Regions from separate parts of the Homo sapiens genome. Here all the other regions are linked to region 3. The links come from fine-mapping of genetic effects on plasma protein levels. A gene starts in region 3. Each other region holds a variant in brackets. All regions are shown on one strand. Distances are from middle to middle.

Region 1 (10,105 bases), 16 kb after region 3:
CACTGTTGCACACAGTCCACACCCATGCTCACAAACATGCTTGTGCACACACATACGCTCACACATGCTCACAACACACATGCTCTCACACACGCGAGTTCACACACACATGCTCACACTCATACGTACACGCCCACACACATTCACGCTCACACATGCTGACAACACACATGCTCACACATACACACATGCTCACACACACCCATACATATGCTCACAACACATACACGCTCTCACACACACATGCACATACACACCCATACCCATACATATTCACACTCACATGCTCACAGCACACACACACGCTCACGCACATGCTAACACTCCCACACATACACTGACAACACACACACCTACACACCCACACATTCACGCTTACACATCATCACACACACGCTCACACATGTTCACACACACATGCTAACACTCCTACACACTCACAACACACATACATACCTACACACCCACACATATTCATGCTCTCACATGATCATAGTATACACACACATGCACTCACACATGCTCCACACACACACATGCTAACACTCCCACACACTCACTACACACCTACACACCCATACATATTCACGCTTACACATGATCATAGTACACACACACACATGCTCACACATGCTCCACACACACGTCATGCTCACACATACATGCCAGATGCTCACACACACACACTCACACATCCTGGGGATTTATTTATGATCTTCTGCCGAGGTATGAATTCTTTTTTTTTTTTTTCTTTTGAGTCTCTCTCTGTCGCCCAGGTTGGAGTGCAGAGGCACAATCTTGGCTCACTGCAACTTCCGCCTCCAAGTTTCAAGCAATTCTCCTGCCTCAGCCTCCTGAGTAGTTGGGATTACAGGCGCATGCCATCATGCACGTCTAATTTTTGTATTTTTAGTAGAGGCGGGGCTTCACCATGCTGGCCAGGCTGGCCTCGAACTCCTGACCTCAGGTGATCCTCCCACCTTGGCCTCCCAAAGTGCTGGGATTACAGGCATGAGCAACTGTGCCCGGCCTGATACATAAATTGGATTGTGCTCAATCCACTTCTGTTCTGATCCATGGCTACCAGCGCCTATTATGTGCAGGGCCCTGGAGGGGCCGCAGAGCAGAAGGGAATGTGCAGAGTCCTTTATGAGCTTCCAGTCTAGCCAGGGGCTCTAAAAAACCTGACGGTCCCAGCACAAAATGACACACGAGGTCTTCAAGAGCAGGACAAAGGCATGTGGGAGCACCAAGCGGAGAGCACATGGAGTCAGGGGACTGAACAAGGCTTCCTGGAGGAAGGGACATTTGGGTTGAGTCCCAAAGGATGGGCAGGACGTGGACGGAGAGAGATGAGGGAGAGGGGGAGAGGTTCCATGCAGAGGGGACAGGCAAAGTGAGAACAGAGAGCCAGAAAGCAGGGGTGTGTTTGGGGCCCAGGGAGCAGTCTCTGTTGCCTGTGAAGGGGAGAAAGTAGAAGTTGGAGCTGCAAAGCTTGGTTGGGGCCACATTACACAAGGTCTTCAGTGCCAAAGTAAGGAGTCTGTGGTTGCATGGGAAGGCAATAGGGAGCCATAGACAGTTTTGAGCAGATAAGGGTCACAACCCGAGTAGCCATACCACCAGTATATGCTGGGTCTGGGGACAGGATGGAGCCCCCTTGGATGCACCCCCATGGGTGCTCTGGCACTGTGCACTGAAATCCCACTTCCTCTGTCCCAGGCTGGCTGCGTGGGTGATATGTGGTTCTTGAAGGGTGGGAGGGAACAAAGATGGCATTCAGACTGGGGTTCCACTGGCCCTGAAGCAGGATGGGTACTGTGAATGGACCCACAGCCAAGTAGGGTCGTGGCAACGGAGCTTGGGAAGGTGGCAGTCTGGGTGGGATCATGCTGCTTCGGGGTGTTGGAGTGGGGCAGGAGTGGGAGTTCATCTCCTGGCTCTGCAGGGAAGGAGCTGTCCTCCAAGACCAGCACCTAGGCTGCTCACCAGGCTCAGAGGCGGCTCTGAGGTTTACTGACAGCCTTGTGTGTCCCCAGGGACAGCAGACTAGCTGAGAAGCTGCCCACCTCTCTACTGAGCCTCCTCTGCTCTCTTGCCCGCACTGTCTGGGTTTTCTTCCTCATTCCCCTCAACCCCCAGGACAAGGAGGAGGTGGTGATTCCTTTCATTGGCCAACGTCCCGAGGTTTCCCTGTCCCTAGGACGCTCTTCGGGCTTCTCCCAGGCTGTCATGTCCCTGCAGGACAGAAAGGCAGGGCTGGGTCTCGGACATGGACGGGATCCCATATGCGCTTGGCCTTTCCAGTCACAAGGAGAGCAGGGGGTGAAGTCTGGCAGTGGTCAGGCTAAATGCCAGCCCAGAGAGCAGCCCCGCTCCACTGGCCCCGAAGCAGGATTGAGGTTCCCTCTGCGCCGAACAATGCTTGAGTGACAGGCCTTTAAAATGGGCCCCTCCTCCCCCTGGGCTGCCTCAGGAACCAGGGACACAGGTCCCGCTTGCTGAGCTCTGGCCTCAAGAGCACTTGTTAGGGAAGGGCTGGAGGCAAGGCCAGTGGGACAGAGCCTTCCGTTGCTGGTGACGTGACCAGGACAGTAGCAGGGACTGTGGTGCAGGGTCTGTGGCCTTAGGAATGGATGCAGGTGTGATGGGAGACAGGGTTGTCACAACAAGCCTGTCCCAGGGTCCCACGCACGTCACCAAGGCTCACCTAGTATCTTCAGCCAGATCCCCGGGATAGGGGACAAGATGGAAAGTGACGGCCACCTCCTTGTCTCCATCCACAGTTCTAGGAAGAGCTGAGCTGTGGACAGTGGAGGCCAGGGCCCAGGATCCCAGGGGACCAGGACATGCCAGGCTGGGATGGAGGCAGAACTGGGTGAAGCCACCACAGACCCTGCGAGGCTGGAGAAGGTGTTTCCCCCCTCCCCTCCACGAGTGCGTGGTCAGAGCTTCGAGGGCACAGCAGTTTCCCTGCCCTACCACCCTCCCTCGGGGTCGGGGCTAAGGTGACACTGGGGTGGGCCAGCCAGCATGGGGGCCGCAGGGAGAGGCGCCGGGAAGCAGGGAAACATCACAGGCCCACCAACCTTTTCTCAGCCCGGGACAATTATATGGCCACAAATCACAAAGAAACGGTGGCGTAAGCACCCTTGCCAGCCTAGTGGAATACTCGGGAGGCCATAAAAATTCAATTAGCCTGGCTAACCTAGTGCCTAGCTCCAGGATACAGTGAGGTTGGTGCAATGGAGAGGGGTGCGTGGGGGAGCAGCTGCGGGTGGTGCACGGGGGCAGGAGGTCTCCAGAGTCTGACAGACGCCCCCACCATCCCCTGAGCTGCAGCTTCTCCCTCCAGTGTGGAGGGAGGGCACTGGGTCCCCTGAGGGGGATATCCTGAGGCTAGGTCGGGTTGGCTCAGTCTACCCTGCAGGGGTCAGAGCCAAGTCTGCAAAGCTGTTCCCAAAGCCCCTCCCCCAGGGGAAGGGACAGTGTCAGAACATTCTGGGGCCTCAGAGCTCATCATGAGAGGAGAAGAGAAAGGCAGAGCTGGGCCATCCTGGGACAGCCACACGGGGTTCAGGGCTCAGGGACAGGAATGACACAGTGCCACTTACTAGGTGTGACTTAACCTCTCTGAGCCTTCATTGCCACTTCAGAAAAATGGGGAAAATAACAGGAGCCATTTCAGAGAGCTCTTGAAAGGGCGAAGTGACATGAATTCACACAAAGCACTTAACGTGGGTCCTGCCTACAGCGTGCGCTCAAACGCTATTATTCCATTTGTATGGAATTAGGCTCCGAGTCAAGTCTCAGGGGCCAGAGGCATATTTCTGAGCTCTGAGGGACTCGGTTCCCTCTAGGGGACTTGGTAAGGGGCAGAGGTTTGTGCAGAGAAAGGAATTCTGGACTAATCTGGAACTTGAATGCTGCTGAAATGATTTAAGCCGGGGGTTCTCAGCCTCGGTACTGTTGTTTTTCTGGGCCGGATGATTCTTGGTTTCGGGGGCTGTCCTGTGCATTGTCGGGCGTTTAGCAGCATCCACGGGCTCCAACCTCTACCTGCCAGTAGCACTCCCCAGTTTTGACAACTAAAATATGTCTTCGGGCATTGCCAAATGTCACTGGGAGCAAAATGTCCCTCTATGGCTGTTGAGAAAAACTGGGCTTTAATCATTTGAGTGAGGGGCAGCAGAGAGAGGCCTGGGGCTGCGCATTCATGGTGTTGCTCTTCTTGCAGGGAGGAGCCAATGGCTGGGCCTGCCATCCACACCGCTCCCATGCTGTTCCTCGTCCTCCTGCTGCCCCTGGAGCTGAGCCTGGCAGGCGCCCTTGCACCTGGGACCCCTGCCCGGAACCTCCCTGAGAATCACATTGACCTCCCAGGCCCAGCGCTGTGGACGCCTCAGGCCAGCCACCACCGCCGGCGGGGCCCGGGCAAGAAGGAGTGGGGCCCAGGCCTGCCCAGCCAGGCCCAGGATGGGGCTGTGGTCACCGCCACCAGGCAGGCCTCCAGGCTGCCAGAGGCTGAGGGGCTGCTGCCTGAGCAGAGTCCTGCAGGCCTGCTGCAGGACAAGGACCTGCTCCTGGGACTGGCATTGCCCTACCCCGAGAAGGAGAACCGACCTCCAGGTTGGGAGAGGACCAGGAAACGCAGCAGGGAGCACAAGAGACGCAGGGACAGGTTGAGGCTGCACCAAGGTAGCTGGAGGGCTGCGAGGGGTGGGGATGGGGGTGATTCCTGCCATGGACTGAGGGGAGCAGGAGAGGATGCAGGCAAGGGTCAGGGGCATGAGGTCCAGAGGAGAGGAGGGGTCTCACTGAAGCCAGAGGGACCTGGTAAGGGGAGGAGGCTGGGAGAGGCCTGGGGTTGGGGCATGGGAAGAGGAGAGGGATGTGTTGCAATACAATCTGTCTTATCGCGGCCCGGTGCCGTGGCTCACGCTTGTAATCCCAGCACTTTGGGAGGC[C/T]GAGGCGGGCGGATCATGAGATCAGGAGATCGAGACCACGGTGAAACCCCGTCTCTACTAAAAATACAAAAAATTAGCCGGGCGCGATGGTGGGCGCCTGTAGTCCCAGCTACTTGGAAGGCTGAGGCAGGAGAATGGTGTGAACCCAGGAGGCGGAGCTTGCAGTGAGCTGAGATGGCGCCACTGCACTCCAGCCTGGGTGACAGAGCGAGACTCCGTCTCAAAAAATAATAATAATAATCTGTCTTATCAACAGATCATCCTCCTGAATCAGGAAGTTCTACCTTGTATCTGACCTAAATTTCTCCTACTTTAAGTTCTGAGTAGAAATGGAACAGTTCAGCGCCCTCCAAGCACATTTCTTACTCGACTCTGACGCATCCGGTAGGAGCTAAGAGCCTAGACTCTGAAGCCAGGTCTGCCTGAGATCAGGTCCTGCCTCCACCACTAGGGTGTGGCCCTGGGCAAGTTCTCTTTCTGTGCCTCGGTTTTCCCCTCTGTAAAGCAAGGAGACTGGTCCCATCCCATCTACCCTCAGTGTCGTTGCAGAGACTTGGTTAGTGGGGCGCTTGGAGCTCAGCTGGCAGGGCCATGAGCAGTCATTGTTCTGGTTAATCTCAGCCACCTGCTGAGGCCAACTCAGTGTCCTCCAGCCTGGACACAGGTGACTCCAGGAGAGGCATCGCTTGCCTACCGCTCCTGCCTCTGCCCTGTTTGTCTCAGTGCTCCCCTAGCCCTTCCCACCTTCCTTAACGTTTCCCCCACATCCGCTGGGAGCTAGCTAGCCCCCTGCTGGCCCAGGCTTCCCCCTCCCCGTGCCCATTCAGTCTCGGAGTAGACATGTCCCCTCAGCTCCAGTCAGGTGGCTCCTCCCAGCCTTGCCTGGCCCTAAGCCAGGGAACTTGGCTTCTAAGCTCTCCATGTGACCCGACTGCCTCTAGGGACATGCCGAGTGCCACAAATGCAGTGGTGACAGCAGGGTTCTTTGGCAGGAAGGCAATGGAGCTTCAACACCCCTTCTCGTGCAAACAGCTGAGGCTGGCTTCCCTGTGAGGCCTGAGAACCCCCCAAGAGGGCAGAGGTCAGTCAGGGTCCCCCGGCTTCGACTTTCAGCCTCCCACTCCTGGAGTTACCTGTGTCAGCTTTCAGGGGAGGATGCTGGGACCTTTGAGGACAGCTAGAGGGCACGCGTGGGGTGTGGACCCGTCCTGCTGGGCTCCGGCTCCGCCAGCTCCAGGGCTGCAGCCAGGCCTCCTGGGAGAGTTGATATGGTGAGGAGGAGGTGGGGAACGGAGAAGGTTTGCGGGCTAGGCCCTGCTCTGCTAATGACTGGCTGTGAAACCTCAGGCCAGGCTGGGCGTGGTGGCTCACACCTGTAATCCCAGCACTTTGGGAGGCTGGGCAGGCAGATCACTTGAGATCAGGAGTTGGAGACCAACCTGGGCAATATGGAGAAACCCCATCTCTATCAAAAATACAAAAATTAGCCAGGTGTGGTGGCGCATGCCTGTAATCCCAGTTACTCAGGAGGCTGAGGTGGGAGAATCACTTGAACCCTGGAGGCAGAGGTTGCAGTGAGCCAAGATTGAGCCCCTGCACTCCAGCCCTGCTGGAGCTGAATCCAGACCCTGCTACTCATGAGCTGTGCATCCTTGCGTGAGTCACCTAACCTCTCTGTGCTTCAGTTTCCTTCCCTGTAGATGAGACTGAAGGAGCACCCACTTCCCAGAGCTCTTGCAGTAGTTAGACGAAATAACACTTGTGACACAGCTCCTCTGGGACCCAGCACACAGCAGGTGCTCCATTAATGGGGTGATGACTAATTGTCACCACACAGGATGCACTCACTTGTGTGTGATAAGCAGTGATTCCCACCTCCCAGCTTCCTCAAAGGCCACTGCAATGATTCTCAGCCTCATGACATTTCTCCCTACTCAAACTTCACCTCCTCCAGGAAGCCTTCCATGGTTAATCCTACTAGTTCCTATTTGTTATACTTACATATCTGGCTGCGCCCAGCCAATCTGGACTTGGACTTGCTGGAATGTTGCTTTACAGGGAGAATCCTTGGACTGTCTCCCCAGCGACACTGCAAGTTCTTCCAAGACATTTTCCTCCGAGTTCCCATCCCCCAACCTCCCAAGAAGGGTAGGAAGCAGGAATGGGGGCTGAACCAAGGGCTTGTCACACAGTGCCTGCTGCCTCCTAGTTTGCAGCATAAAACGTGGGTTCTACTGTAGACTGCCACGAGGTGGCAAGCAGATATAGCCCCCGTGCTCCCCACCCTGTGTCTCAGGCCGAGCCTTGGTCCGAGGTCCCAGCTCCCTGATGAAGAAGGCAGAGCTCTCCGAAGCCCAGGTGCTGGATGCAGCCATGGAGGAATCCTCCACCAGCCTGGCGCCCACCATGTTCTTTCTCACCACCTTTGAGGCAGCACCTGCCACAGAAGAGTCCCTGATCCTGCCCGTCACCTCCCTGCGGCCCCAGGTAAGGGGTCCCCAAACAGCCTCGGATCTGGAAGGGTCCTTGAGCCCATGTCATGGAAAGCCCTCTTAATACATGTAGGGAGACTGAGGCACGGGGGCAGGAGGCCACAGAGCTTACTTAGATTGAAACCAGATCTCCTGCTGCCCATCCAGTCTAGCTCCAGCCCTGGTGGGTGCCCCATCCTGACAAGGGTCTGCCACTGTCCAGGGCAAAGTGCTCCTGGGGGCCCACTCTGGGGACAGCCAAGGAGGCAAGCGGTAGCTCAGCATGCTGGTGTCTGCATGGAGAGCAGCAAGGCCTGGGGAGGAGCTTTCTGTGTACAGAGGAGCATGAAGCATAATAATGGTGATTTTTAAAACTGTGTCGTCAAGACCCAGAATTAATAAGCATTAGCTAACACTTGGACCCATCTGCATCAGATCTTTAAAAAAGATATGTGGGCTGGGCGCGGTGGCTCATGCCTGTAATCCCAGCACTTAGGGAGGCCAAGGTGGGCAGATCACGAGGTCAGGAGTTCGAGACCAGCCTGGCCAACATAGTGAAACCCCATCTCTACTAAAAATACAAAAATTAGCTGAGTGTGGTGGCGCACGCCTGTAGTCCCAGCTACTCGGGAGGCTGAGGCAGGAGAATCGCTTGAACTTGGGAGGCGGAGGCTGTAGCGTGTCAAGATCGCCCCACTGCACACCAGCCCGGGTGACAGTGTGAGACTTTGTCTCAAAAAAAAAAAAAAAAAGAAATGTGGGGCGGGCACGTTGGCTCAAGCCTGTAATTCTAACACCTTAGAAGGCCAAGGCACGAGGGTCACTTGAGCCCAGGAGTTTGAGATTATCCTGGGCAACATAGTGAGACCCTGTGTCTACAAAACTTTTTTAAAAAATTAGACAGGCATGAGGGCATGTGCCTGTAGTACCAGCTACTTGGGAGGCTGAGGCAGGAGGATCGCTTGAACCCAGGAGGTCAGGGCTGCAGTGAGCCATGATTGCACCACTGCACTCCAGCCTGGGCGACAGAGTGAGACCCTGTCTCAAGGGAAAAAAAAAATGTGGAGAGAAAGTAAGCGGCAAATGTGGCAAAAACACTACCCACTGGTGATTCTGGAAGAGGGGTATATAGGAGCTGACCGCATCGTTCTTGCACCTCTTCTGTGGCTTTTAAAGGTTTTCAGGCCGGGCGCGGTGGCTCATGCCTGTAATCCCAGCACTTTGGGAGGCCAAGGCGGGCAGATCACAAGGTCAGGAAATCGAGACCATCCTGGCTAACATGGTGAAACCCCATCTCTACTAAAAATACAAAAAAAAAAAAAAAATAGCCGGGCATAGTGGCAGGCACATGTAGTTCCAGCTACTTGGGCGGCTGAAGCAGAGAATTGCTTGAACCCGGGAGGCAGAGCTTGCAGTGAGCCAAGATCACGCCACTGCACTCCAGCCTGGGCGACAGAGTGAGACTCCATCTCAAAAAAAAAAAAAAGGTTTTCAAACTAAAATTATTTAAAAGGATCAATAATATATATGTATAAAAAATACATAAAAAAGAAATAGGCCAGGTGCAGTGGGTGGCTCACGCCTGTAATCCCAGCACTTTGGGAGACCGATGCGAATAGATCACCTGAGGTCAGGAGTTCGAGACCAGCCTGGCCAACATGGTGAAACCCCGTCTCTACAAAAATACAAAAGAAATAAAGCTTTTTTAGCAGCAGATCTTTCTTATCCTTTTTTGGGGTCTTGCACCCCCTTGAGATTGTGATAAAAGCTGCAGACCATTTCCCAGGAATACATGGTTATCCGTCTTATCATCCAAGGCCCCCTGCAGGCCAGCCTAGAAGGTGCGGTTCCTGCCCATGCCCTAGTGCTCGCACATGCCCGTGTGTAGATCCAGCTATTGCTGAGGACCTCTAGCCCTCTGCATTCCTGGGGCCACTGGCCCAGGCTGTGAGTGGGACTGAGCCCTGGTTGTGGCCTCAATGGTGCCACGGATTGCTGGTAACCTCTGCAGAGAGAGGAAGGGATGGGAAAGTCCAGTGAGTGGCTGGGCTACTTCCAACACCCTCCTCGTGGGCTTAAAGACCCTGGGCAAGCAAGGTTGCCTTCCCAGCCTGCAGGTGGTCTCTGCCCCTCCTCAGAGGGCCTGGTAGGTAACTCACCTGTGTGTGTGTGCATGGTCCTTCTTGAGTAATGGCTGCACAGGAAGGAAATTACCTAGTGGCCACTGGAACAGGAGCCTCCGGCAGCCATCTTTATGTCCTTGGGCTGAGACTCCAGGCTGCCCAGCAGAGGATAAGGTGGCCTCTGAGAAGCCTCTTTTTTGTCCTCTGACCTTGGGACTCCACACTCCTGCTTCCATGGATTTGAAGGTTCCAACATCCCCCTTCTCCACGGTCTCCAGCAGGCACAGCCCAGGTCTGACGGGGAGGTGATGCCCACGCTGGACATGGCCTTGTTCGACTGGACCGATTATGAAGACTTAAAACCTGATGGTTGGCCCTCTGCAAAGAAGAAAGGTATGCCCACCTACCCCACTATCTTCCATGCCTGGGTGCCCTGCCCTCCCGCACCATCTGTTGAGGTGGGGGCCCCAGTGAGCCCTGTCTGATCTTCAGATGTCCAAAGGTGGGATGTGGGGAGAGGGGGAGCATGGAGCCTAACCTGGAA
Region 2 (8,000 bases), 58 kb after region 3:
ATAGAGTAAAGTGAAAGCAAGTTTATTAAGAAAGTAAAGGAATAAAAGAATGGCTACTCCATAGGCAGAGCATCCCTGAGGGCTGCTGGTTGCCCTTTTTAAAAAAATTAATTAATTAATTAATTTACTTATTTTTGAGATGGAGTTTCTCTCGTCGCCCAGGCTGGAGTGCAATGGCACAATCTCGGCTCCCTGCAACCTCCACCTCCCAGGTTCAAGCAATTCTCCTGTCTCAGCCTCCTGAGTAGCTGGGATTACAGGCACACACCACCATGCCCGGCTAATTTTTGTATTTTTAGTAGAGACAGGGTTTCACCATGTTGGCCAGGCTGGTCCTGAACTCCTGACCTCAGGTGATCCACCCACCTCGGCCTCCCAAAATGCTGGGATTACAGGTGTGATCCACCGCGCCCAGGCTGGTTGCCCATTTTTATAGTTATTTCTTGATAGTATGCTAACCAAGGGGTGGATTATTCATGCCTCCCCTTTTTAGACAATATAGGGTAACTTTCTGACGTTGCCATGGCATTTGTAAACTGTCATAGTGCTGGTGGGAGTGTAGCAGTGAGGACAACCAGAGGTTACTCT[C/G]GTGGCCATCTTGATTTGGGTGGGTTTTAGCCGGCTTCTTTACTGTAACCCGTTTTGTCAGCAAGGTCTTTATGACCTGTACCTTGTGCTGACCTCCTGTCTCATCCTGTGACTTAGAATGCCTTAACCATCTGGGAATGCAGCCCACTAGGTTTCAGCCTTATTTTACCCAGCTCCTATTCAAGATGGAATTGCTCTGGTTCATACGCCTCTGACGCTTGGAAGGGGTGTGGGTGTCAGCTGCCCCATGGGAGGGGTGAAGGCATGAAGCGGCCCCTCCCTGGCCTGGCCTGCTTTCTTCCTCCTCCTTCACTCCTGGGCCACCTGCAGTTGCTGGTGTGCCTTTTCAACAGACATTACTGAGGCCCTCAGAGGTGCCAGGCGCAGGGGCGTCCTGTGTTTTCTGCACCCGACGCTTTCCTGCCCCTGTGGTGGTCATGTTCACAGACCTCTTCTCTCCCCCTTGTTGTGCCACAGGTGATTCTCCTAGGTCACTGGCTGCTGACAACCTGGTAAGTGACTCTGTGGGTATCTTGTGTGTCTCCTGCGGTCTCAGGGTCTGTGTCAGCCGGGTCAGGTCCTGGTTCTGCCGTGTTTTAACCAGGTCACTTTGGGCCAGACAGCTCTGCCTCTCCGGGTCTTGATTTCCGTCTGTACAATAGGCATAAGGATTGCACACCCTGCAGGAGCTGGGAGGGAGACGTGGAAGTGCTCATCAGAGCTCCCCAGGGCCTGCCCCACAGTGAGGCCTCAGCACTGCAGCTTGATTTTCACCTTTACCATCTCTTTTAATCTGTTGAGCTTCTGGAGACATTTCTCTGCCAAACCAAGACTGGAAACCATTGAGCTCACCTGTGCACTTTGCAAACTTCGAAGTGCAGCGCACAGGGCAACAGCTGTGAGTAATGTGAACTGTAACCATCATGATTCACGACCTTGAGAAGCAGGGCCAAAATACAGATTTCTTAGTCACACTTCCCCAAGATTCTGAGTTGGTGATTCTGGGCTGGGACCCAGGCACCTGCTTTCTTAAAAGCAAAAGATAAGATGGTTTATTCAAAGACCTATTGAACCGAATGGCACTCCACACCTGCCTTGCACATGTCTTCTGCATGTTACACTTTAGTGAATGTCCTATAAATCTAGGAAGCGCCCGCTGCATGCAGGGGAAGGCAAGGCCCAGTGGGTTTGGTAATAAATGAGGTAGACTCAGTCCCTGTCCCCCTGAGTCTTCCTTGCAGCACAGCAGGGTGAGCAAGAGCATGGCCTCTCCAGCCAGACTCCAAATCCCAGCCCCACTGCTCAGCAACTGTGTGACCTTGGGCGAGTTACTTAACCTCATTGTGTCTCAGTTTCCTCATCTCTAAAGTGAGGGTAACAATAATACTTCCTTCCTATGGTTATTAACATAAATGTACATGAATGAGTTAATTTAAAACAGAACCATGCTAGGTACTAGCAAGTGATCGGTGTTCACTATGATTTTGATTGGATTGACAAGTAAGTCAACAATGTCAGTATCAGTACCCTAAAAATAGAATAGGGCGGGCCTTGTGTTAGGAAAGTGACGAACTTGTACTTAGCACCGGTGGGCAAGGGAAGGAGTCTCAGGGTGAACATTCGAGTCTCAGGGTGAATGACAAAAGGAGGGCCAGGTGTCAGGGTAGAGGGCGCCCGCCGCACAGGGCAGTGGCTGGGAGGTCAGTAGGGCGAGGCTGTGTCCGGGATCCCACAGGCCCCTTAGGCCCTGGTGAAGAGTCTGCATTTTATTCCAAATGGGACAGAAAACTGTTGGAGGATTTTTAGCAGAGGAGTGACAGCATCTGACTACGTTACCGGTTGCTGTTTAGAGAACAGAGTGGCAGTCAGGACGCTGGCACAGGGTGGCTGCGGCTGTCATCTGCCAGGAGAGGGAGGTGCTTTGGATCTACAGGGACACAGCCAGATCCAGGGTCTGGGTGGGAGGCGGAGCCCATGGGATTTGCTGGCACACAGCCGGGTGGCCTCGAAGACTATGGCATGTTCTGGGAGGAGGCCCTGAGACGCCGGAGCAGGAGGGAGGTGACCTGCGGGGTGGTGGCCTCCTGACGGGACTGAGCTACCTCTTCCTACAGGGGCTGCATTGTATTCTCAGGCTCCTATGCCTGGGCCAACTTCACCATCCTGGCCTTGGGCGTGTGGGCTGTGGCTCAGCGGGACTCCATCGACGCCATAAGCATGGTGAGCCAGGGTGGGGGAGAGGCGGCAAGGCGGGGAGCCGCAGCACAGGGCAAGACATAGCCTGGCTCTGCTACCCCGTCCCATCCCAATCTTCCCCCTCTTCCTTGGGCCACCACTTCCCATTGTCTAAAGCCTGTTCATCAGCCTCCTGGGCTCCGGCCCATGCCTGTGTTCAGGAGCCCAGCCTGCTGCTCTTCTTGTCTGGCTTAGAGAACCCCAAGTCTGCCATTATCTCCCTGAGGAAAGCCATGGGGTGGGTCCCACCAGTGCCTCGGATTAGCCACTTCGCAAGAGCAGTGGAACATCCCCTGTAACCTCCCTCTGCGGCTCTCTTTTAGGGGAGGGGATATGGCTGGGAGACCCGGCCAAGAGGGCATTTCACTACTTTAGGAAGTAGAGGTGACCCTGCCCCACCGAAACCTCCCACAGGGGGAGCTTCTCAGCACCCACGGAGCCCCGTGGGGCAGTGAGCACTCCCGCACGGGCTCTTCAAGCCGAGGCCAGGGCCTCAGGATGACTGAGAAGAGATTTTCTTTGTGTTGGAGAAGGACTGGGTGAACTCCAAGGAACCTTCCTCTATGGAGGTTCTAGAGCCAAGTCTTGTGCCCATCATGGCCTTGGAGATGACGGGAAATGGGTGGGGAGGGAGGCTCTGGTGGAACCGAGACCTGGGCCCCCGGCATCCCTGCCCCCAGACTGCAGTCTCAGCCAGCGGCTCCCCAGCGGGGCCCTGCCTGCTTGCTTGATCCATTTTCCCGCAAGCCCCAAGGACACAGCAGGGCATGAAACGGCTTCCCATCCGGTGTGTGGCGGGGGAGCCACGGAGCGTGGTGGGGGTGTTGTGCTCATCAGTGTGGTGTGTCTTGCAGTTTCTGGGTGGCTTGCTGGCCACCATCTTCCTGGACATCGTGCACATCAGCATCTTCTACCCGCGGGTCAGCCTCACGGACACGGGCCGCTTTGGCGTGGGCATGGCCATCCTCAGCTTGCTGCTCAAGCCGCTCTCCTGCTGCTTCGTCTACCACATGTACCGGGAGCGCGGGGGTGAGCTCCTGGTCCACACTGGTGAGGCCACCACCTCCAGCCAGCTCCTCACCGCTCCCTTCTCTCCCTTGCCTGGCCTCCAGCCTCTCCCTCAGTGAGCCAGCCTTGCCCCATGGGGCCAGGGCTCAAGGTGCAGGGAGAGCGTGGCATGGGCGCTCTGTACTAGGCTGGACAGGTCCAAGCTCCTAGTCTCTGCTGCAGGAGCCCAGGGGTCCCCTGGTTGTCCTGGTCTGCCGTGACCTTCTTCTGCTGTGAAGCTGAGGCTGGGCCCTTCTCTCAGCCCAGAACACAGGCACAGCTGGGGGTACCATTTAGTTCCCAGGGGCAGCCCTGGGCTGTCTCCATCCTGAGGGCCACGGGCACCTACAGGTCTCCTCTCTGTTCTCACCGGGGCCCATCACTGGAACCCCATTTCCTGCCACATGGGGTCTTCCCTCTCCTGCTGCAGAGACTGCTAGGTGGCCAGGGCAGAGCCCGTGCCAGTGTAGGCTGTGGGAGCCTCAGTGAAGACAGCCCTGAACAGGGGGCACTTTCCCTGCCCACCGGCCCCTCCCCACTCACCCAGCCTTACACCTGCCCTCTCCCACGCCCTCTCTGAACTCCTGTACTCCTTCTCCTGGTGGCCGAGCCATTTGCCTGCTCTCTGACACCTCTCTCTCTCTTCCTTTCTCTCTCTCTTTGAGAGGAGTGGAGGGAGGTGGTAGGGTGTGGCCTTCTGCCTTTCACTCCTGAGATGAGATGCCCCACGTGGCCTGTGACTGCCACCAGCTGGTTGAGGGTGGGAATGGCCTGGGGCTGCCCACAGTGGCTGACCTCAGCACTGCCTGGGCCTGCCCCCAGGTGAGGGGTGCCAGAATGTTTCTCCCATTGGACAGATGAGGAAACTGAGGCCCACATCCTTTGGGACTTGTTCAGGGTCCCGGGATGAATGTACAGAGTAGGGGATGGGAGTGAGGCATGTGGCGTACTCGGAGCCCTACGGCCCTGCCTTGGACCCAGCCCCAGCCTCCGAGGCCATCTGGATATGGTAATGTGGTGTCCTTGTACCTGGGAGGGGAGCTGGAGAGGAGTGCGTGGGCCCGGGGCTGATGTCCCTCTGCCCAGGTTCCTAAGCACGTGCTGCCTGGGGAAGCCCATGGCACAGGGGCCAGGAGCCTGGCTTTGGACTCGGCTGCCTAGGCGTGGGTCCCAGCATCATCAGCTTTGAGCTGTGTGATCTCGGGCAAGTCACTTCATCCCTTTGACCCACAGTCTCCTCATCTGTAAAGTGGGGACAATAAAAATACCCGTCGCACAGGGATACGGCAGGATTGAATGAATAATACACGCTAAAGGTTTAGGGCCTGGGGCTGCTGCCTCTGTCTCTGTGCATGGTGTCAGGATGCCCAGCCCGAGGGTGGCGGGGGTGGATCTTGGGTTGGACTCAGCTGAACATCCCGAGTTCTCACCCTTCATTTTTCTTTCCCACCATGTCCCCTGTCACCTAGGTTTCCTTGGGTCTTCTCAGGACCGTAGTGCCTACCAGACGATTGACTCAGCAGAGGCGCCCGCAGATCCCTTTGCAGTCCCAGAGGGCAGGAGTCAAGATGCCCGAGGGTACTGAAGCCAGCCACGCTGCGCCCGGCCCTGCCCCGGGCCTTCCTCGTGCCTGGGAGGTCGTTCTAGGGATGCTCCTGACCTCCGTCTCTTGGACCTAAGATGGAATGTGTCCCCAGCTCAGGGATTGCCTGAACCAAGAGGCCAGGAGCCCCCATGGGCCGCCCAGTACCATGCACACTCCTGTCCCGAACTCCCTGAGGCCTCCCCTCCCTTCAGGGCACCCACTGGTTCCCAGGCTGGAACCAGGGTCTCTCTTTACCTCCTACCCCATGGTGGCACCACAGAGGCCCTCAGCCGAGTCCTGCCTGAGTGTTGCAAGCTCAGGCCTTTAAGGACTGCTGATGCCCCCTCAGGCCTCCCCCAAGTTTGCTGGGCTTTGGTGGAAGCCCTGAGAGCTTCAGGTCCTGCTCAGCCCGAGGAGCAGTCTGGCATGGGAGTGAGGCCCCGTCCTTCTCACTGCCTGGTCACATGGTGCCTAGGGATGCAGGGCTGGAGGCCAGAGGTGTCAGCAACACTGTGTCCCACCACAACCTCCAGCCTCCCTTTTCAGAGCACAGCATTAAAGTTTGGGGAATTCTGTAGATGGGCTGTGTTTTGAACCACCTTCAATCTCCTGGCTGGGCTGGGGCCTGGCCTTGTTCCTGGGAAGATGTCTCCTGCCAGTTCCCAGGTGGAGCCTGTGCTGTGCTGCCCCATTCTGTCATGGCAGGAGGAAACAGGCATGTGCGTTGGCTGAGCTGGGCTTGAGCCTGGCTCTGGCCTAGCAGAGGCCACAGGAGAGAGAGACACTGGTGGGTGTGGTGCGTGGGCATCCGTTTCTCTGAACCAGATGACCCAGGCACTCTTTGGAATCCTGCTCTGCCACTTACTAGCTGCATGCCTTCAGTGTCTTCTAGAAAGGGTTGGTGCCTGCTCCAGGTGTGAAGTGCCTGGCGTGAGGAGGGCTCCCTAAGTGATGGTGAACTTGTTAGCAGTGGACCTGCTCCTCAGGCCAGTGACGATGCTAGGTTAGGAGGCAGGGGCGACCTCTTCCTGGTAGCCCCTGTGTCTGGTCACAGCTGACTTGGGCTGACACGTCCAGAAGTTCCCCAGGGCCTCGGCCCACCCCACGGACAGGTCTAGCTATTCACAGCTTGCTCTTCTGCCCCCTGGGCACCAAGTGCCAGGGCTTTCCCAGGCCATCCTGGCTTGTCCCTGGCACAGGGTCAAGGCCTAGTGCACAACTCCCATTATTCTCTTGCGTCCATCTGTCAATCAAAAGAGGCTCAGTACCTGCCTGGTGCCGAGCGGGCTTGGGGCTGCAGTGGTGACCTTGGGAGCCTGCTCTCAACCTAGGAGTCTTCCCACCTGGAGGATTACAGACAGAGGCAAGAGCCCCGAAAGAAGAGGACATGGGCCTCTGGGTCAGGGAGGAAGGCTGCTGTGGGGAAGGGGCTGTGCTCCGGGCAGAGGGCTGCTGAGCAGCTGCAGTTGTGAGAAACTGGAAACAGCCTCACTGTCGGGAGACGGACCAGTAAGCCACGGTCCATTCATTACAGGGAGTATGGACCAGGAAGCCACAGTCTATTCATTGTAGGGAGTATGGACCAGGAAGCCACAGTCTATTCATTGTAGGGAGTATGGACCAGGAAGCCACAGTCCATTCATTGTAGGGAGTATGGACCAGTAAGCCACGGTCCATTCATTATAGGGAGTACGGACCAGTAAGCCACGGTCCATTCATCGTATGGAGCACAGTGCAGCAGTTACAGCTGTTAAACCAGACCTATTTCCACCAACGTTGGCCCCCCGCAAATGTGAACAAAGCAGATTGCAGAATGGCATTGGGATGAATTTTCAGACCTCACAGCAATGCCATATGTTGTTCCTGGGTGTATGTGCGGTAAAATAGAAAAGCATGGACTAGAAGGACACCTGTCAGGTTCATGACTGTAGCCACCCTGGGTGGAGGAGGAGCGTGACCCGAGGGGAATGGGACTAAGACCCAAGTCCGTTTATCTTGTGTATACAGCATCCTGGCCCCGGGAAGGCTTGTGTACCTGCGTCGTGAACGTGTCAGATTCCCAAAGGGAATGAAAAGCCAGGGCAGGGGCTTGGCCCAGGCAGTGGGGGCAGATGATGCAGCCTGGGCCACGCACAGGGGAGTGTATCTAGACACCTCAGTCCCTCATCGTCCCAGACCCCCAGGTTGAACCGGCTCTTTGCGGGAGAGGACAGAGGAAAGCTCCTGTCTCAGAGTGTACCCCAGAAGCAGAGCCTGCGATGAAAGCAAGGGTGCCAGGCTTTCCAGTCATTGGCTAGGAGCTGCTCAGGGAGTGGGAGAGGGTGGCTTAGATTTGCAGGCACTGTGCCACCCCCCGACTGTGCAGGCAGTCGGGAGCCGGAGGGCCATCAGAGGCAGACAGAAACGGTGGAGGAGGCAACCATGTGGCTGCCCCTTCCACACAGCGGCCTTAACAGGGAGAGCTTCTAACATACAACAAGCGCCCCAGAGCCCACTGTGAGTGAGGCCGTGTTCCAGAGGCAGGGGATGCCAGGGTGCGGGAAAA
Region 3 (10,105 bases):
TCCATTTCCATTTCCCAAGGCAGCAGGCAACTCCCAAGGTGCCCTAGGGAGGACACGCATCATCACGGAACAAGATGCCTAAAGACAAGGACTTCCTGCTGACAGCTCCTCTCCGCTCTCATCTGCCTTCTGGTGTGAGGCCTGACCTGGACAGCTGTCCCAGATCCCAGGGTTCACTGCTGACCTGAGATGGCTTCCGACACTTCAGCCAGAGCAAAGCCCTCACCTGCCATTCCCTCCGTGGGGTTCTACTGATTCCCAGTGTTGCTGACCCCTCAGTGGTCAGGGGGACCTTACTGATCATCTGCTCTTTTTTCATAGAGACAGGGTCTCGCTGTGTTACCCAGGCTGGTCTTGAACATTTGGCCTCCAGAGTTCCTGCTTCAGCCTCCCAAAGCTCTGGGATTACTGGCATAAGCCACCGCGCCTAGCTAATTTTTTTGTACTTTTAGTACAGACGGGGTTTCGCCATGTTGGCCAGGCTGGCCTCGAACTCCTGACCCCAAGTGATGTGCCCGCCTCCACCTGCCAAAGTGTTGGGATTACAGGCTTGAGCCACTGCGCCCGGCCCAGAGACACTAAATGCCTTACACAACATCAGGAGTGTCCAGATATATTCAGAAGCCATCCTGGGCCACAAGGTAAGAACTTTTGATCCAGCTCAACTGCCACTTTAAAAAAAAAAAAAAAAAAAAAAAACTTCTCTGTGGAGATATAATTCACAAACCATAAAGTTCACATTTTCCCTGGGTACAATTCAGTGATTTTTAGTATAGTTACAATGTTGTACATCGCTACTCTCTAATTCGGAACATTTTCATCACTCCTGATGTCTTGAGAAGGGTTGTTCATGCCCAAAGTGTGTTGCCAGGTACATCAGTTCCAAAACTACTAATCTACTTTCTGTTCTATGGATTGTCCAATTTTTTTATTTTTTTATTTTATTTTTTGGAGACAGGGTCTCACTCTGTCATCTAGGCTGGAGTGCAGTGACGCAATCACAGCTCACTGAAGCCTCAACCTCCTGGGCTCAAGCGATCCTCCCACCTCAGCCTCCCCAATAGCTGGGGCTACAGGTGTGCACCATCACACCCAGCTAATTTTTATTTCATTTATTTCTTTTTTGAGACGGAGTCTCTCTCTGCCACCCAGGCTGGAGGGCGGTGGTGCAATCTCGGCTCAATGAAATCTCTGCCTCCCCGATTCAAGCGATTCTCCTGCCTCAGCCTCCCGAGTAGCTGGGACTACAGGCGACCTCCATCACGCTTGGCTAATTTTTAAATTTTTAGTAGACATGAGGTTTTGCCATATTGGCCAGGCTGGTCTCGAACTCCTGACCTCAGGTGACCCACCTACCTTGGCCTCCCAAAGTGTTGGGATGACAGGCATGAGCCACCACGCCCAGACTAATTTTTAAAATTTTCTGTAGAGAAGGGGTCTCACTATGTTGCCAGGCTGGTCTCCAACTCCTGGCTTCAAGAGGTCCTCCTGCCTCACCCTCTCAAAGTGCTAGGATTACAGGCATGAGCCACTGCGCCTGACCTGGACTTGCCAATACGGAACATTCCATATAAAAGTAATTGTACAAAATATGGTCTTTTATGTCTGGCTTGTTCCACTTAGCATAATGTTTTCAAGATTCATCCAGGTCGAATCACATATTGATACTTCATTCCTTCGTAGAACCAAAATACTCCCGTGTATGGATAGACCACATCTGCTTATCCAGTCATCAGTTGATGAATATTGGAGCCTGCTTTGGCCCCTCAAGTACCTCATTTTACAGACAAGGAAACTGAGGCCCTAAAGTCATCATAAACTGGATGGGATAGGAGTCCAGGCCTCTCCTAACATCCACCTTTTCATATTGTGTCACCCCAGCTCCAAGCACATCGGAAGATCACCCAGCCAGGGGACAGCCACAGTAGCAGCATTTGAACCAGAGACTCCAAGGTTTTTCTCCTGGCTCATGAATACTGGCCCACAGCTCTATCCTTGGCGACGCAAATCATGCTGGCTGCACACTGCCCCCTCTCCCAGGCCCAGGTGACCATCATCTCTTCTCTGCCACAGTACTTAGCTGGTCTCTTGCTTTCACCCTTGTCCCACTGCAGACTACTCCCAACCTTAGGAATCAGCACACGTGGCCGGGCACGGTGGCTCATGCCTGTAATCCCAGAACTTTGGGAGGCCGAGGCTGGCGAATCACCTGAGGTCAGGATATCGAGACCATCCTGGCTAACATGGGGAAACTCTGTCTCTACTAAAAATACAAAAAATTAGCCAGGCATGGTGGCAGGTGCCTGTAGTCACAGCTACTCAGGAAGCTGAGGCAGGCGAATCGCTTGAACTTGGGAGGCAGAGGTTGCAGTGAGCCAAGATCGCGCCACTGCACTCCAGCCTGGACAACAGAGCAAGACTGCATCTCAAAAAAAAAAAAGAAAAAGCAATCAGCAAACCTGCTAAAAACCTAAGTCGGATCATGTCTCTGCTCTGCTCATGGTCCCTCTAAAAAGCTCAAGTCCTCCCTGTGGCCTTTGCAGGCTCACATTGTTAGAGGTGTCTGAACCAGAGCAACCCCATCTTGAGTAGGGGCTGGGTCAAATGGGGTTGGGACTTGCTGGGCCATATTCCCAGATGGCTAAGGCATTCTAAGTCACAGTATGAGACAGGAGATCAGCACAAGATACAGGTCATAAAGACCTTGCTGATAAAACAGTTTGCAGTAAGGAAGCCTGTCAAAACCCACCAAAAGCAAGATGGCCACGAGACCAACCTCTGGTCATCCTCACTGCTCCACTCCCACCAGTGCCATGGCAGTTTACAAATGCCATGGCAACATCAGGACGTTACCCTATATGGTCTAAAAAGGGGAAGCAAAGGCCAGGCACACTGGCTTACCCCTGTAACCCTAGCACTTTGGGAGGCCAAGGCAGGCAGATTGCCTGGGGTCAGGAGTTCGAGACCCGCCTGGGCAACATGGCGAAACCCTGTCTCTACTAAAAATACAAAAAATTAGCTGAGCATGGCGGTGTGTGCCTGTAACCCCAGCTAACTGGGAGGCTGAGGCATGAATCGCTTGAACCTGGGAGGCAGAAGTTGCAGTGAGCCGAGACTGTGCCACTATACAAGCCTGGGCAACAAAGTGAGACTCTGTCTCAAAAAAAAAAAAAAAAAAAAAAAGGCTGGGTGCTGTAGCTCGAGCCTGTAATCCCAGCACTTTGGGAGGCTGAGACAGGTGGATCACCTGAGGTCAGGAGTTCAAGACCGGCCTGGCCAACATGGTGAAACCCCATCTCTACTGAAAACACAAAGTTAGCGGGCATGGTGGTGTGCACCTGTAATCCCAGCTACTCGGGAGGCTGAGGCAGGAGAATTGCTTGAACCCGGGAGGTGGAGGTTGCAGTGAGCTGAGATTGTGCCACTGCACTCCAGCCTGGGTGAGAGCAAGACTCCCTCTCAAAAAGAAAAACAAAAGGCGGGGGGAGGGGAGAAGCATGAATAATCCACCCTTTGTTTAGCACATCATCAGGAAATAACCATAAAAATGGGCAACCAGCAACCCTTGGTGCTGTGCTGTCTATGGAGTAGTCATTCTTTTTATTCCTCTACTGTCTTAATAAACTTTTTACTCTATGGACTCGCCCTGAATTATTTCTTGTGCGAGATCCAAGAACCCTCTCCTGAGGTCTGGGTCAGGACCCCTTTCCTGTAACAACATGGTCCTATCCCAGCTCCCTGTCTGATGTCACCTCACTCTGTTCCAGACTGACTCTTCTCCACCAAACACACCAAGCACACTCCCGCTCCAGGACCTTTGCAGTGGCTCTTCTGCTTGCAAGTCTTCTCCCCACAACCACGTGGCTCATTACCTCCTTTTCTTTGCCAAAAGAACTGCCCCAGCAAAGAGGCCTTTCCTAATAACTTTATGTAAAACAACACCTCGTCCCTTCATGCTTTGTCTGTAATGTGCTTTACTTTTCTTCATAGCACTAATCACCACCTGACATCATTTATATTTATTTGTTCACTTATCTTCTGTCTCCTTCACTAGAATCTGAGCTCCATGGGGGCAGGGATTCTTGTCCATGTTGTTTACTACTGTACCTCCGGTGCCGGCACATAGTAGGTGTTCAATAGGTATTTATGGGATGGATGACTCAAACCTTTCAGTGAATAAACAGTTCAGTGTTCTCATCAATCCATCCTGGTGCCCACCAAGCTAATAATATCACGGTAACAATGGCAGCTAATTTTACAGGAGCATTTCCTATGGGCCAGACCTTAGAAACGTTATCTCCTTACACAGGGCACTGCATTCACGCCTAGAACACTGAAATTTAGGTATAATCATGAGCTCAGAGGTCAGGCGACTTGCTCGAGGTCATAGGGGACGGCATCAGAAGAGGAACACAGACATTTAGCCTGACGGCAGAACTGTGTTCTAAAACCTCAAAGTCATAATTTGCCACACGCTGGAGAAAGAAAACAGTCGAAATGGAAGCCACCTGGCGAGCTCAGGGCGCCAGGTGGGAGCGCTGCTTCCCACATATGGGAGTCCGGCCCCATCGCTCTTTGATCTTTGCAGCGTCCGTGGCCCCACCGACCCCGTCGTGAGTTATGGGAGGCACGGGACCCATAACCCAGCATTCTCAGACTCCCAGGGTCGTCAGGACACGGCGCCCCGCGCGGTGATGGATGAGCCGGCCCCAGCGCTGGCTTTGTCCGGGTTGGGCCGGTCTGAGAAGCTTCAGGCCGGCTTTGGACGGGGCGTGGCGAGAGCCGCGCCGCGTGTGAGTGTGTGTGTGTGTGTGTTTGTGTGTGTGTGTATTGGGGCGGTTGTCTTTCTCCCTTCCCTACCGGGAAAGAGGGCACAGGTGCGCCGTCAGCGCCCCAGGTGAGCTGGTAGCACTTTGAAGACCCTTTGTACCCCTACATCCAGGAGCGACCTCTCGGAGAACCCCGCCTGCCCACTCTGCGCACTTTCTGCGGCTACAAAGGCCCCGCCGTTCCCCGTCCCGCCTCCCCCGCCCTGGGCATTTCTTCCGTCCCTTTTGACAGTCTAGGCGGAATAATCCTTTTGTGGCCCCGGGCCCCTGCCCTGACAGACGCGGCCGCAGCTGAGCGCGCAGCCTCGCTCCATTGTTGGGGTCCACCGAGGACCGCCCGCCGCGGCCCTTTGTCGCCCGCCCTGCGCGGGGCCGCTCCAGAGGCGCCACAACTGCCGGAGCCCCTCCCGTCCCACGCGCCCTGGGCCGCGCCGAGGCGGCTCTTACGCACCGGGAGGAGTGGGCCTGCCTCGCCCGGTGCCCGCACGGCTGCTGGGCTGCGCCCGCCTTTGTCTGCCTCCTTTGTCTGCCCCGCGCCCTCGCGGCGGCGGCGCCTAGGCCTCTGGGGAGCTGGCCCAGAACTCAGAGCGCAGCTGGCGAGGGCGCGCTGGCCGGGTGCGCGCCGGGCCCGGCCCCGGGGCTGCCCCTCGGCTGGGGGCAGTCGAGCCCGCCACCCGCCGCCCCTCCTCTGTCCCCTCCCCGCGCTCCCGCCCCCTTCCCTCCTGCCCGCCCACTCCCCCTTCCTTCCAGTCCCGCTCAGCCCGGGCACATCCTCCGGCTGCCCGCGCACCTCTCCACGCCGGCCCCGTTCCGCGGCTCGCCCTCGGCTGCGCTCGGCTCCCGCGGGCGCTCGGCCCCGAGCCCCTCCTCCCCCTACCCGCCGGCCGGACAGGTAAGGCACGGCCTCGGCCCGCCCCTGGCTCCGCCCCTCCCGCCCCACCTGGCTGCGAGCCCGGACAAAGGTGGGCTACCTGGCGCGCCCAGGGGCGGGGTGCGCGGGGTCCCGAGGCTGGAAGTGAGGATGCTGCCTCCTTCCCAGCCCTCGGACCCGTCTATCCGCCAGTCCTTCCGCCGCCTCCTCTCCTCGCCGCGTCTGCCCACGGACCCTGGCTCTGCTCCCGGGCTCCCCATCCGTCCACCTACCGCTGGACGCCCACTTTTCCACGCTCTGACACTCGGCCTCGCGCGCGCCCTCGCCGCCCTCTGGGGTCCCGGCTCGCACCTACTCTCCTCGGCACTAGCCTTCTCTCTCCCTGACCCAGTCTCCCTTTGTCTCTCTGTCTCTGAGTCTCCGGGTGGTCTCTCAGGCAGGGGGCCCCAGTCCGCCACCGTTGGAAGAAGTCTTCGAAGACTCCCTGAGCCCCGGGCAGAGCTGGCGGGCGTGCCCTCCAGCCCCTTTCGAGGCCGCCCAGGAGGCTGGGGTGTGTGGCCGGGGTCGCTGAGTGCGCCCGGAACCAGCACCGCCGGTGGCCCCGCGCCGTCCCATCTGTGCCCAGGAAGGTACTCAGCCTGGCTCCCCCGACGGCGCTGGTCTTTCGCCTGTGGTCTCCCGCTCTGTCCCTCCTGCTCCCCACCGCCGGCTTTTGGCTTTTCTCCGTCCGCTCGTCAAGGGTCTCAGCCGCCTTCGGGGCCGGGGTATGAGATGAGAGAGGGCTGGGGTTTCCCGCCAAGTCTTTCTTGCTTTCCTCAGCTGGGTGCTCCCTGGGCCATCCTCTCCGCCCGGTGGTCTCCCCTGCCCTATATGCTCCCTCCACGCTGCCCACCTCCCAGCCCAGTGACACACTGGTGTCTGGAACCGGTTCAGTACTATGCATCTGGAGTCGGGTACACTGGGGCTCTGGGAGTGATCTCGGACAAAGGAATGCACCTCTCTGAGCCTCAGTGTTCCTGTCACAAAACAGGGATGGTGCTAGTCCCTACCTATAGGGATGTGTGTGGAAATTGTGGGGTGCCGCTTGGTGCTGGTTCACACACCCTGTGGAGGAAGGGAGGGGAGGGGAGGGGAGTCTACAGACCTGGGATGGGGTGGGGACAGGGGGCTCCACAGAAATGGATCTCAAAGTCAAGGCTTAGAGACACTTCAGAGTAACCCCACCACCACAGCCTCTTCCCCCATCACACTTCCTGTCACCTTCACCTCCTCGTGCCCATACAGGCGTCCACACCCTTGCAAGCACTCTTCTCTTTCTCTCTCTCCTCCTCTTTGCTTGTCCTAAAATCAGCTAAAACAATCAGGGCCAATGGGTCACTTTTTTTCAAAATGAGATCAGTGTGGCTGAGCTGGTGTTGCCAACAACTGATCACCCATCAGAAGGCGTCCGGTGACTCACCCCCAATTCTGAACCTCAGTCTTGGCTTGATGCCTTTAATAGCGGCACCAGCTCACAGGCCACTTCCTTTCCTCTGAGGGGATTGTCTTGCTGGCTCCTGGACCTGCTGTGTGCTTGCCCAAGCCCCCTGACCACTGTCTAGGTGGTCATAACATGTGACACACCACTCCAGGAGTCTGGCAGTGACGTGGCCTGAGTGTCTTAATGAGGGCAACTTCAGAAGAGGGAAACCTCCCAGCTGGCAGGTTCCAGGCTCCCCTGGCTGAGTTCTTATTTCAGCCACAGCCAGGGCTGGCAACTGGAACCTTTCTCTTTAGAGGCAAGAACGGCTGGATATCCCCACGACATCCCCCATCCAGGCTCCTGCTCGAAATCCGACCTGGCAGACAGGCCCTACTTTGGTGAACCCGGCCCTTCATACCATCTCTACCCCCTGCCTTCTGCAGCAAAGCCAGCTCAGAGGCTTGGGAACCTTGCTCAGGTCCTCTCTGCTCTCTCCGCTGCCTTCCTCCCCACTATTCAATTCATCGCCCTCCCAGTCCATAGTCCTCAGTGGCTCACTGTGGCCACTCAGTTAACTACAGAGACCTCAGCCCAGCCTAGCCCTGTCCTGCCTGCCTCCCAGCATTGTCCCCTCTGCGTCCCAGGTTGCAGCCACGATGGAGAACTGACCATCTCCACAGTCTGCCCTCCTCTGAGCTTTTGCTAGGGCTCTTTCTGCCCTGCCCTGTGTTTGATCTCAGCCCTCTGTCTTTGCTGACCAAGGAGGTCTGATGTCCTCTCCTGTGGGAAGCACCCCGGCACTCCCTTGCCTCCCTAGCTCTTGTGAACTGCACGGCATAATCCCTATCTGGGAGGGGTCTGCTCCTCCCTGGGTGGGGGCTGGGTCTCCTTCTGCTTGTGGTCCCAGTGCCTGGCACGCAGTAGGGGCTCTGTGCACACCTGTTATATTGAATGTGATTCCTGGTCAAAGGCACAGGAATGAACTGAAAACTGCAAGCCCCAGTGTCTTGCTGAGTTCTGCTGGGTCCTGCTGGTGGGGCCAGGGCGGAGCTGGCCCTCTGGCTGGGGAGGTTGGAGGGGGAGCAAGCTGCCCGGAAACCCCTGTGATACTGAGGCCCTGTATCACTCTGGAAAATGAGGGTGGTCTCTGTGCCTGTTATAGGGGTAGAAACTGAGACCAGAGAACGAAGTGGCTCACCCCAGCCGTGCAGATTGGGTTTGAAGCCCAGCTGATCACTTAGCAGCTGTGGGACCCAGAGGGAGTTCCTTCACGTGTGTCGGCCAGGAATGTGATGGAGCAGGGACTTGCATCCCAGCCTCCCCGAACTTCCCTCAGAGGCATGAGCATGTTCCTGGGGGGCAGGTCATAGGAGCACCCCTGTTCTGGCCCAGTGGGTTGGAGCTGCCTCCCTCTTGCTCCGCTGGCCCTCTCTGCATGCCCTACTCCAGCCTTCCTTCTCAGGGGTGAGTCGCTGTGGCCAGTGGTCCCCAAGAAGAAGAAGGTTGTGGGAGGATGGCTGAATCCTTGCCAGTAGAGGCTCTGCCACCCCAGGTTCCAGCTTGACAACGCCCCATGCCCCAACACCATGACCCACCCATGCCCCAACACCAAGACTTCTCTTGATGGGATGGGGTTGAAGGGGTGGTTATGAGGGATGAGGCTCCTGCTAGAACCCAGAGCAACTGGAAGGAGCTCATTGCAGGACTTAATGGTTTTCAGGTGTACCAGGCTCTGGGTCAGGCCCCAGCTCATGCCACCTTCCCTGGGACTCACAGCAGCTGCACTGGTGTTGGTTACTGGATGGCAGCATGAGGAGCAGTCTCGGCCAGGAATGTGATGGAGCAGGGATGATGAGTCTGAGGAGTCAGATGGCTGTGGGTTCGAATCCCAGCTCTATCACTTGCTCTACTAGGCTATCTTAGGCAAGTCCCTTGGTCATTGTCTTAATGTTCCTACACAGCCATTGTTGCTATTACCATCTGAAAAATATTATCCACTTCAGGCCAGGTGCAGTGGCTTATGCCTATAATCCCAGCACTTTGGGAGGCCGAGGCAGCTAGCTCACTTGAGGCCAGGGGTTCGAGACCAGCCTGGCCAACATGGTGCAACCCTATCTCTACTAAAAAAAAAAGATACAAAAATTAGCTGGGAAGTGTGGTGCACGCCTATAATCCCAGCTACTTGGGAGGCTGAGGTAGTAGAATCACTTGAACCCAGGAGGCACAGGTTGCAGGGAGCAGAGGCTGCAGTGAGCTGAGATTGCACCACTGCACTCCAGCCTGGGCAACAGAGTGAGATTCTGTCTCAAAAAAAAAAATATATATATATATATATACTTCAAAGGGTCAAGTTAAATAATGCCTATAAAGCTCTGGGCCTAGAACCTAGAACAGTAGATGATACCCAAACAAACACAGAGCTAAATGGTCTAGGTACCAAGATAATGAAGTTTGAGGAATATGGAGGCTGAGGGTTGCTTCCCCCACCCACAAATTGCCTAGGAGAGGAGGAAGAGGGGCCACAAGTACCTATAATCTAGCAGGAGGTAGGACTCGAGTTCAGCAGGTGAGCGGGGAATGCTGGAAGCTGGAGGCCTTTGAATGGGTGGGGCCTCTGATGAACTCCCGCAAAGCCCCTGTACAGGTTTTTAAGGTGTGAGGTCTGGGGTGGGTTGAAAATCCCAAGGCTGCTGTCGGAAACAATAAAAGCAGATGGAGCTGCCCCTGCAGGGAAGCCAAACCTCATTTGCCAGGACAATGGTCCCCTCCAGGCTGGCCTAGGACAGTCCTGCCCTGCCATCGATCACCCCACTGAGGACAGAGGACGCAGCCACCTGCGCCTGCCCCTTTGCACACCCAGGCACAGATGCACAAATGCTTCCAGGAAACTCCCTGGCCCCCACCACACCCATGCCTGCCACCTTACTCCCTCTGTCTCCCCTT

Direction of the effects. Positions count from the first base shown, and alleles are read on the strand shown. Strength reflects both the effect of a copy and how common the allele is. Not every link is listed here.
For the plasma level of the protein whose gene starts at base 5,578 in region 3, C is the high allele of the variant in region 2 and G is the other (moderate association).

The links. A credible set is the group of variants that fine-mapping cannot tell apart. PIP is the chance, under the fine-mapping model, that this variant and not a neighbour inherited with it causes the effect. The UK Biobank Pharma Proteomics Project read protein levels with antibody pairs (Olink). The fine-mapping took linkage between variants from a reference panel, not from the people measured, so its PIPs are less certain.
Region 1: its variant is the best candidate, but not a certain one, in a credible set for the plasma level of the DRAXIN protein (UK Biobank, PIP 0.76).
Region 2: its variant is the best candidate, but not a certain one, in a credible set for the plasma level of the DRAXIN protein (UK Biobank, PIP 0.73).

What each region holds. Positions count from the first base shown.
Region 1 is chr1:11,702,012-11,712,116 of GRCh38, forward strand. DRAXIN (dorsal inhibitory axon guidance protein) reads left to right here. Exons shown (of 7, transcript NM_198545.4): 2 at 4,238-4,698; 3 at 7,264-7,454; 4 at 9,840-9,954. The coding sequence starts at 4,248. Among named protein-coding and RNA genes, the nearest start is that of DRAXIN, 15 kb to the left of the region's middle. RefSeq lists an enhancer at 2,269-2,896. The variant C/T (reference allele first, on the strand shown) is at 4,968.
Region 2 is chr1:11,744,738-11,752,737 of GRCh38, forward strand. AGTRAP (angiotensin II receptor associated protein) reads left to right here. Exons shown (of 5, transcript NM_020350.5): 2 at 1,066-1,100; 3 at 2,703-2,808; 4 at 3,678-3,873; 5 at 5,340-6,032. The coding sequence ends at 5,455. Among named protein-coding and RNA genes, the nearest start is that of AGTRAP, 13 kb to the left of the region's middle. RefSeq lists enhancers at 3,448-4,124, 4,125-4,801. The variant C/G (reference allele first, on the strand shown) is at 589.
Region 3 is chr1:11,686,133-11,696,237 of GRCh38, forward strand. DRAXIN (dorsal inhibitory axon guidance protein) reads left to right here and starts at 5,578. Exons shown (of 7, transcript NM_198545.4): 1 at 5,578-5,721. It also overlaps a transcript of MAD2L2 not described here. RefSeq lists enhancers at 3,876-4,385, 4,386-4,893.